3 linked regions of the Homo sapiens genome follow. The protein of the gene in region 3 interacts with the protein of the main gene of each other region in a pairwise test. Each region holds a gene or a part of one and is shown on either strand. Other genes may lie near its edges.

The links. The genes of interacting proteins can lie anywhere in the genome.
Region 1: the proteins of PSMG2 (region 3) and SLC35F6 interact in a two-hybrid assay, tested with the Homo sapiens proteins (one large-scale study listed by BioGRID and IntAct).
Region 2: the proteins of PSMG2 (region 3) and NOTCH2NLA interact in binary tests that used the Homo sapiens proteins (3 or more experiments, as listed by UniProt).

What each region holds. Positions count from the first base shown.
Region 1 is NC_000002.12:26,774,284-26,777,783, forward strand, and holds part of SLC35F6 (solute carrier family 35 member F6 precursor), read left to right. Parts: coding exon 1-40; intron 41-760; coding exon 761-932; intron 933-1,180; coding exon 1,181-1,393; intron 1,394-2,088; coding exon 2,089-2,199; intron 2,200-3,500. UniProt on the Homo sapiens protein: Involved in the maintenance of mitochondrial membrane potential in pancreatic ductal adenocarcinoma (PDAC) cells. Promotes pancreatic ductal adenocarcinoma (PDAC) cell growth. May play a role as a nucleotide-sugar transporter.
Region 2 is NC_000001.11:146,163,022-146,166,521, reverse strand, and holds part of NOTCH2NLA (notch homolog 2 N-terminal-like protein A), read left to right. Parts: intron 1-1,511; coding exon 1,512-1,771; intron 1,772-3,500.
Region 3 is NC_000018.10:12,713,042-12,716,541, forward strand, and holds part of PSMG2 (proteasome assembly chaperone 2), read left to right. Parts: intron 1-3,500. UniProt on the Homo sapiens protein: Chaperone protein which promotes assembly of the 20S proteasome as part of a heterodimer with PSMG1.

The DNA.
Region 1 (3,500 bases), on a different chromosome or scaffold from region 3:
AGGGAGCAAGGAGCACAGCTTCCAGCATCCCTTCCTCCAGGTATCTGGCCCTGTCCCTCCTACCTCCTGTCTCCCGGGCCTCAGACCAGGCGCCACCCCCGGCCATGAGGCCAGGCTGTTTCCTGACTTAGGAGTGGAGGTGTCTCCTGCTCCCAGAAGAGCCATCCACTTCTCTCTTTCCCTCCCCAGAGCAGAATCCAAGGTTTAGAATAGGGCAAAGAGCACCATCCTCTGCGAAAGTCCTGGCAAGTGGTCATGTCCTCACCACATCCAAGTCAGGACACGTGGAAAACATCAGCCCTAGTGACAAAAGTCAGCTCTCTATCCACTGGGAGCCCAGACCCCAATTGGGACAGGGCAGACACCATAAATGGAAGACACTGTTCGTTGAACTGAGAATCAGGAGACTCAAATGTCAGCCCCAGCTCTACCAGCAACTTGCTTTGTGGCCTTACATAAGTCTTTGAGCCTCTCTTGGGTCTAGGCTTCTCCACCTGCGATTTGACTAGGGGTTGGCCTAGATGGATGGTTTTCAGACAGGGCTCTGCACAGCCTTAGGGTTCATCAGGATGTATGGGGGCTTTGGGGCAGACCTAGGAGGCTGTCTCTAGCCTCCATGGCAGCTCTGCATTTGTCTATTTTACATATTGGGGTTCTGGGTAAGCTCTTGTTTGACAAAAGTTTGCATTAAAAAAAATAGTTAAAGATGATCCCCGAGATCCCTTCCAGCTCTGAAGTCCTCGGGTTTTCATCCCTGCAGGCAGTGGGCATGTTCCTGGGAGAATTCTCCTGCCTGGCTGCCTTCTACCTCCTCCGATGCAGAGCTGCAGGGCAATCAGACTCCAGCGTAGACCCCCAGCAGCCCTTCAACCCTCTTCTTTTCCTGCCCCCAGCGCTCTGTGACATGACAGGGACCAGCCTCATGTATGTGGGTGAGTAACCAGGCCAGGCTGAGAAGGGCTCAGGGGAAGCTGTGGCTGAAGGGGCTACTGGTGAAACAGCCCTATCCCACCCACCTCCACTTCATCCCACCATTCCCCCAGACTTCACACGCACAGGCACACAGGCAGGACTGATCGAGCGCTTACTATGAGCTTGGCATGTCTATCACCAAAGACCCCTTAGTGACAGATGGCCTTCGCCTTGGGAAGCTAACTGTAATTTGTTTCTCCTTTCCTAGCTCTGAACATGACCAGTGCCTCCAGCTTCCAGATGCTGCGGGGTGCAGTGATCATATTCACTGGCCTGTTCTCGGTGGCCTTCCTGGGCCGGAGGCTGGTGCTGAGCCAGTGGCTGGGCATCCTAGCCACCATCGCGGGGCTGGTGGTCGTGGGCCTGGCTGACCTCCTGAGCAAGCACGACAGTCAGCACAAGCTCAGCGAAGTGATCACAGGTGCGGCCAGGGGCAGGGACACGGGGCTGCCCTATCCTGCCCTGTCCTCCTTGGGAGCCCAGCACAGACTCATACAAGCTCTGCCATGTGCCATATACCAAGCCCTGGGTGAGGTGGGTAGCTCTGGAGGTGATGGATAGAATGTAGGGAAGACTGCAAAGGGATGTGGCTCCACCAAGGATGAGTGGCAGGCCGGGCAGGGCGAGGGGCTGGCTTGTCCTTTGATACAGATGCAGACATGCAAACTACTGGATTTGGGAGTGGAAAGGAACAGGTGCTTACCAAGTGCCCAGCCTGGTGCTGAGCACTGTGTGTTCATCATCACAGTGACTCCCACAGGCCCCAAACGGATGCATCACAGCCCATTTTACAATGAAATGACTGTCCTGGGTCACTTAGGGTCAGGATCAACCAAGAAATGTCTATCTCAAAGCCTGTTGCTTCTTGAAAGACCTGCGTCATACCCCGTGGGGCAGCTCTTAGACACAGGCAGGCCTCTGGGGCCTTAGCCTGGCACTGCTGGCATGCCCCTCAGGAACCAGGGAATCAGGGACAGGCAGTGGTGACTGTGCCTATGAACTATAGGGGGCCCTGCAGAGGTCAGGGGCTGGCATGTTTGGTCGCTGTGGCCATGCTCTCCTGGCCCCCAGCCCCAGTGCAGCCCTGTTCTCATCTGGGTCCCTCCTTCCCCACAGGGGACCTGTTGATCATCATGGCCCAGATCATCGTTGCCATCCAGATGGTGCTAGAGGAGAAGTTCGTCTACAAACACAATGTGCACCCACTGCGGGCAGTTGGCACTGAGGGTGTGTGTGGGCACAGGGGCCTGGAAGGAGTGGGGTAGAAGGGAGCCTGGGGAGCTGAGCACAGGACAAGGTGCCAGGGTTCACTTGTGGGGGGTGAACTTCCTGCCCCGCCTTGCCTTCCAGATGTGTTTTGACAAGTCTTCTGACACCTGCTGTGTCAGGAACTAGAGGAGACCAAGGACAGAGATGAATGAGATGCAAGCCCTTCAGAGGAGGTGACCAGCAGGAAGAAAGGGCAGTCAGTGAATTCAAGTTTGGACCACTTGTGCTCAACTGATGTCTCATTGGCCATGCCTATCTGAGTCTCTCAGGGCAGGGAGGGTGGCATTCGAGCTGCAAATTTCAACAGGCAGTAGTAGGAGCAGCTCCAAACAGAGCAAAGGCACAGGGGACTGGATGTGAATTTGAAAACCAGTGAGGAATAATTTTGAGTGTGGCCAGGTGCGGTGGCTCATACCTGTAATCCCAGCACTTTTGAGAGACCAAAGCGGGTGGATCACTTGAGGTCAGGAGTTTGAAACCAGCCTGCCCAACATGGCAAAACCGTCTCTACAAAAAATACAAAAATTAGCTGGGCGTGGTGGCGCATGCCTGTAGTCCCAGCTACTCAGGAGACTGAGACAGGAGAATCGCCTGAACTGGGGGAGCAGAGGCTGCAGCAAGCCGAGATTGCGCCACCGCACTCCAGCCTGGGCAACAGAACGAGACTCCATCTCAAAAAATAATAATTTGAGTGCAGTATAGGTTTGATGTTGGGGAAATAATCAGGAATTAAGTAGGTCAGGGTCATGTCATTAGAGAACTTTACCATCAGGCAAGTAGATTTAGACTTTAAATGACGGAGGAATCACTGAAAGTTTTTGAGCAGGGAAGTAAGTATCAAAATTATGAGATTAGCAAGATACAGCTGCGCTTTCAAAGAATGTCCTGGGGGCTAGTGCCTGTTGGGGAGCAGCTCTTGTCTGGCCCCCGGTGAGCTAAGGGACTTAGGCAGAATGTGAATTAGCTATATCACTGAGCATGCAGTCTATTTCCACTCATTTCTGTTTTCTAGCAAGACCTTAATGAGTGAAGCAGTGCATGGACTTACCTTCTGGCGCAAGCTCCTTGTCACAGACCAGTAACACACTGAACTAGAAAGCTGTGTTTTTCCAAACTTGTGAAAATAATGTAGTCAGTTGCAGCTGGCAGTTCTTTTTTTAAATGAATAGAATTTTTAAATATCAGAGCATTGTATACTGTAAGGGTAATGTTTTTATGAGTGTGTGTGTGTGTGTGTGTCCATGAACCTGTGCACACGT
Region 2 (3,500 bases), on a different chromosome or scaffold from region 3:
CGCTCCTTGCTCTGCCATGCTTATCTTATGCAGCTCTGGGAGGGGTGAAGAGGCTGTGGCCAGTTACCTCACTACCACTATAGCTATTCACCACCCTGTTTTCTCCTTTAGCCATTTTAGCTACTACACAATTCTTCTGGGCATTTTCTGTCTTAGTTCCCTAGTATCTGGCCTTCCCTCTTTTCTCAGTAACTGTGACCCCTGCTAGCTAGCCTTGCCAACCAATGGTTAATGAAAGGTCTTGGATATGACTGTCAAAGACAAAAGCACTCATGACCCCAATGTTTCAGGTCACAATGATTAGGAAAATCAGGACAACAAGGCTTGGGCACAGAAAAGCTGGTTTTTGAGAGGGGGATTTAGAGTTTGGTTTAAATGTGTAATCTTTGAGGTAATGGTGGAACAGCCTACTAGATTCAGTTTTCTAGTCCCTGAAAACTAAAACGAGGAATAAGTTGAATCACATATTTGGGGCACCAGCCAAATATATAGCAGCATTTATAGTTAGAATCAAAGTGTTTGTGTTTCTTAATTTAAATGCTTCTCAGAGATTCCATTTAAACAACTTCATTATGAAAATGGAGACTTACCATGCCTTTTTGATATTGTTCAGAGAAAATTGTCATAAATAATACACACAGTTTGAAATGGTTGTACATCTTATGAATCAAGGGGTGGCATGTAAAAAGGTTCCTCAGTGCCTCAATGTGGAAAATATCATAGAATGTTATTCTTCAATTGATTCCTTCCTTGACTTTGGTGTTTATATGGTATCTTAGATATTTTATGTTATTTTAATTATATTTTGTGTCTTTTTATTTGGTTAAAAATGCCTACTTAAATATTAACAGATTTTTAAATATCCCTTTGAACTCTTCCCCATTCCTGTACCTCCTTTCCCTTTTTCCGTTGTAATGTCAGCCACCTGAACATAACCCAGAAAACTAGGTATCATCCAATTGATGTTTCAGTGGAAATAAGAGAAAGAAGCACTTACTATTTCTCAATGCTTAATTGAGGAAAAGCACATGATATCTTACATATTTTAAATTGGAGGGGATAATAGGGTCAAGTTCATGCATTATATTGTGGACATCTTAATCCTATCAAATGGCTTAGTCAAAATGAGAAAGTTAATGAATTTAAGCAGACAAGTACGAACAGTGCTCTAAAAAAGGTGCTGTTACACCATCCCAACCTGTACACACATGAAAAAAAGCTGGGGTGCATTTTGCGTTTGAATAAGGGTCATGTTGACTGGCCATGGCAGACCCTGCTAGACCATACACCTGATACTCTGTCACCTGCCAGGACTCAAAAGGACATGGGAGTATGTGGTTAAGTTCTCTAAGGACTCTTTCTTCTAAAGGGAAGCAGTTTTATAGGTGGTCCTTGTAGGTCTGTTGATTCACAATCTCGTGCTTTCTTGATTGGACTGTATTGTTTTACTGTAATTTTTTGGACTTACAAGAAGTCAGGTGTTTTCATGGACTCTTCTCTTTTCCATACAGATGTCCAGAAGGCTTCTTGGGGGAATATTGTCAACATCGAGACCCCTGTGAGAAGAACCGCTGCCAGAATGGTGGGACTTGTGTGGCCCAGGCCATGCTGGGGAAAGCCACGTGCCGATGTGCCTCAGGGTTTACAGGAGAGGACTGCCAGTACTCGACATCTCATCCATGCTTTGTGTCTCGACCTTGCCTGAATGGCGGCACATGCCATATGCTCAGCCGGGATACCTATGAGTGCACCTGTCAAGTCGGGTTTACAGGTAACTAATGAGACCAAAGCCAGTGCTTTCCTACCTTCAGCAGATACCTTTATTTAGCATCTTTTAGATCATGGTGTCTGGCTCTTAAATGTCCCCCAGCTCTGGTGCACATTTAACATTATGATAAGGAACTGGGATGTTCCAGACAACTATCCCTAACTTCCTTTTAAGAGTTTCAGGGGGCAGAGAAAGAGAAAGAAAAAGGACCAAATACTTTGACTGCTTAAAGTATATATGTCAGGGCCAGGTGCGGTGGCGCACGCTTGCAATCCCAGCATTTTGGCAGGCCAAGGCAGGAGGATCACTTGAGGCTAGAGGTTTGAGACCAGCCTGGGAAACATAGCAAGACCCCATCTCTACAAAAAAACAAGAATAAAAATAAAACAAAATTAGTCATGTGTGGTGGTGTGCACCTGTAGTCCTAACTACTTGGGAGGCTGAAGTGGAAGAATTGCTTGAGCCCAGGAGTTTGAGGCTGCAGTGAGCTATGATCGCACCACTGCACTCTAGCCTGGGTGACAGAGTGAGACCCTGTCTCAAAAAAAAAAATATGTACACCAGGATGGGGAATCAGAGTTTACTTCACTAAAAGAAATAAGTACACTGTCACCAGAGGAAAAGTTGCTGATGTTATTGACTATTTGCTTTTAGAAATCTCCCTCCCTAGACATTCAGGGCACTGGCTTTTCTGGTTTTCTGAACCCTGTTCCTTTTGCTTCTTCATTACCTTGTTCTTATCCATTAAATGTTTGTGCTCCCTGGAGCACTGTTTTGCGCCCTCTTTTGAGCCACATCACAGCTCTCCCTAGGGAATTTCACTGTCTGTATTCGCCTCCACTGCCACTGTCTTCATTAGCTTGCTGATGAATCTCACCATCATTCCCTTAGCTCCACCCAACCCTGACATTCAGGCTCATGTTTCTAGTTATCCTTTGTATGTTCTCCTTGGAGATATTCTACAGGTACTTTCAGCTCACCTTGTTGACAGAAATACGTAGCAACCATGTACATCCCAAATACCCACGCTAGAAACTCCCTGTCCCTTGTTCTGACCTCATTTCAACTCAGTCACCCAAGCCAACCTCTGAGTTGCCTTTCACCTGTCTATTCCTCCCATTTCCTCTGCTACCCTGTAGTTGAAGGCCATGTTATCTCTCACCTGGGCTTCTGAAGTAGTTTCTGAATACGTTTTCTTGCCTTTATTCTCTCCCCATCTCATTCACCCATGATATTACTACATCTTTGATTATAAATGCAAATATTCTAACAATCTCACCTGCTTACAATGTCTAATATTTTTTCATCATCCGCAGAATAAACTGCAAACTCTTTTACATGACTTCCATAGCTCTCTACAGCCTAGACTTTACATCTTTTTATAGCCTGGCCTCCCCACAAGCATCTAGGCCTAGTCACACCAAATTCTCCTTATTTCCTGAAAATGTTGTACTTATTATTGCTTCCATACAGTTACACACCCTTTTGCCTGGAATGCCCTTTTCTACAACTGGTGATTGTCCAATGTTATTTAAAACTGTGTCTCAGTGACCCTTTCATGATTCCTTTAGGCAAATGGTCTCTAAGTTTTATTAGTTTTATGTATCACATTTTATTGTAATTTTTTTTACACATATCTCACCTGAATAGATTGTGGGTTTTTCTAGGTGGGTCTGAGCTTTATTCAAAAGTGTTTATTAAATTAGATGAGAAAAGGAGGAACATTCTTCAT
Region 3 (3,500 bases):
GTATTACCTTTCAGCTGGTGGCATCTACATATAAACTATGTATATATCAAATTATGTATATGTCATAAAATATTCTGAATCCGACTTCTTTCCTCCTCCACTGCTGTCATTGAGTGCAAACCAGTGTCATCTTCATGCCCCTGACTAACTTGCTGATCTGCCTCCCACAAACAGCAGCACTGATGATCCTCTAAACGTACACCACATCACTACTCTCTTTGAAACCCTCCAGTGGCTTCTCCTCTCACTCAAAATTGTGATCCAGGAAAAGGGGCTCGCTTCCTGATGCACTGTGACACCAGGTTTTTGAGACAAGAAAGGCTTTATATTGCAAATTGACTCCCAAGGAGACAGGAGTCGACCTCAAATCTGCCTCCCTGTGCTGACTTCAAGGCAGTGTTTTTATTAGAAAAGGTTCAGAGGGTGGATTCTGAGATCAGTAGGTGAGCGATGGAAGGAAAGGGGACATCTGGAAGGTCCTTGGGCATGCACAGTTATCTCCTCATGCTAACTCATAGGGCTCATGTGCCAATTCAGGGGAATGAGTATGAAACGTGATGGAGAGTCAGCTTGCGACACCAGGAAGCTTGTTCTCTGCAGACTCTACTTGGCCATATTGGTTCCAACCAATTTCAGCCAGTTCTTTTATCCCATAAGGGGAGGAAGTTTCAGTATTTTACCAAGTAGTTTCTTATCTGCTACCCTGCAAACTCAATAATTTCTTTCTTTTTTTTTTTTTGAGACAGTCTCCTCTGATGCCCAGGCTTAAGTGCACTGATGTGATCTCAACTCACTGCAGCCTCTGCCGTCCTGGGTTCAAGTGATCCTCCTGCCTCAGCCTCTGGGATTACAGGGACACGCCACCACACTGGCTAATTTTTGTATTTTTAGTAGAGACGGGGTTTTGCCATGTTGGCCAGGCTGGTCTCCAACTCCTGCCCTCAAGTGATCCACCCACCTTGGCCTTTCAAATGCTGGGATTACAGGTGTAAGCCACGCCCAGTCCAAACTCAAGAATTTGTTAGTCATTGGTTTCTTTAACTCTTTGAGGATGGTTTCAAATTCACAGCCCTTACTGTGGCCTATGAGGCTGTATATCTGTGCTAATACAGTAGCCACTAGCTACATGTAACTATTTACAGTTTAATTCATAAATTTAAAATTCAGTTCCTCACGTTCCAAGTTCGCAGGAGCCCCATATGCAAAAAGCCAGCATAACAAGAGTCATGCTCACAGGAGCTCTGCCAGACTGCTGCTTTGCAGAGCCTAACCTGCAGCCACACTGGCTTCCCTGTGTTGTTAGACATTAAGCTCATCCTGTCTCAGTCTTTCCACTAGCTTCTCTGCCGAAATTCATTTTCTTAGAGACTCCAATGGTTTGCCTCCTTTACTGTTTTCTTAAATGTTTCTTCATGAGAAAGGCCCTCCTAAACAATCCTTTCTTCCTTTTTTTTTTTTTTTTCCTTGAAACAGGGTCTCTCTTGCTCTGTCACCCAGGCTGGAATGCAGTGGCGTGATCTTGGCTCACTGCAACCTCTGCCTCCCAGGCTCAAGCCATTCTCCAACCTCACCCTCCCGAGTAGCTGGGATTACAGGCATGCACCACCACACCCGGCTAATTTTTGTATTTTTTTGTAGAGGTGGGGTTTCGCCATGTTGCCCAGGCTGGTCTTGAACTCCTGAGCTCAAGCAGTTCATGCTTCAGCTTCCCCAAAGTGCAATGGCGTGATCTCAGCTCACTGCAACCTCCGCCTCCTGGGTTCAAGTGATTCTCCTGCCTCAGCCTCGCAAGCAGCTGGATTACGAACGTGTGCCATTGTGCCCGGCTAAGTTTTGTATTTTTAGTAAAGATGGGGTTTCACCATGTTGGCCAGGCTGGTCTCAAACTCCTGACCTCAGGTGATCCACCCACTCCACCCACCTCAGCCTCCCAAAGTGCTGGGATTACAGGCATGAGCCACTGTGCCCGGCCCTCTTTTTTTTTGAGGCAGAGTTTTACTCTTGTCACCCAGGCTGGAGTTCAGTGGTGCAATCTCAGCTCACTGCAACCTCTGCCTGCTGGGTTCAAGCGATTCTCCTGCCTCAGCCTCCTGAGTAGCTGGGATTACAGGTGCCCGCCACCACACCTGGCTAATTTTTGTATTTTTAGTAGAGATGGGGTTTCACCATGTTGGCCAGGCTGGTCTCAAACTCTTGACCTCAGGTGATCTGCCCGCCTCAACCTCCCAAAGTAGTGGGATTACAGGTGTGAGCCACCACACCCAGCCGAAAGTAAGCTTCTGAAAGGAATGATGAAGTGTCATTTACTTTTATATCCCCAGCTCATAAGATAGTGTCATGCACATAGAGAAGCTCTCAGTAAATATTTGCTAAGGGATTTTTTGGAATGACCTGAGGTATCATCTTTTCAGGAGGTTAGAAATACAGGATTTTAGTGACATGGTTAACTGCATAGTACTTTTTATTTTAACTTTTCTTTTTGAGATGGAGTCTTGCTCTTGTCGCCCAGGCTGGAGTGCAGTGGCGTGATCTCAGGTCACTGCAACCTCCGTCTCCTGGGTTCAAGCAATTCTCTTGTCTCAGCCTCCTGAGTAACTGGGATTACAGGTGCCCGCCACCACGCCTGGCTACTTTTTGTACTTTTAGTAGAGTTGGGGTTTTGCCATGTTGGCTAGGCTGGTCTCACACTCCTGACCTTAGGTGATCTGCCCACCACAGCCTCCCAAAGTGCTGGGATTACAGGCGTGAGCCACTGTGCTCAGCCATTATTTTAACTTTTTATCGAAGTATGACGTACATGAGAAAAGTGCACAAATCATAAATATACAGCTTGGTGAATTTTCATGCAGTAAACCCTCTGTGAAACCAGCTTTCAGATCAAGACATAGAGCATTGTCAGCATTCCAGAGGACCCCATAATGCGTCCTAGTCAGTATTCTATTGGTGGAATTCTGTGGTATATACTTACAGCATCTAGCTTCCTTTCTTAACATTCCCTTTGCGGGGTTCACCCATGTTGTTGGAAGTAGCCATAGTTCATTCGTTCTCATTTCTCTGTGGTGTTAAGTTGTATACATAAGCCATAATTTTTCCATGGTACTTTTGATGCTACATTTGATTATTTCCAGTTTGAGACTATCATGAATAGTGCTGCTAAGATTATTTTTAATTCTTATACTAGAATCACTGCTTTCTTTAGTTAACATTATATACCCAAAGTTTTGCAGTTAGAGTTGGTAACATTTTTACATTGTGCCACATGGCTTTTTGTTCTCTTTCTAATCAGTGTAAGTTGAAAAATTATTTAACGTATAATATAAATTTTTGGCAGCTGGAAGTAAAGAGTGAATTTTTTTTTTTTTTTTTTTTTGAGACGGAGTCTCGCCCTGTTGCGCAGGCTGGACCGCAGTGGCATGATCTCGGCTCACTGCAAGCTCCACCTCCTGGGTTCACGCCACTCTCCTGCCTCAGCCTCCCGAGTAGCTGGGACTACAGGCGCC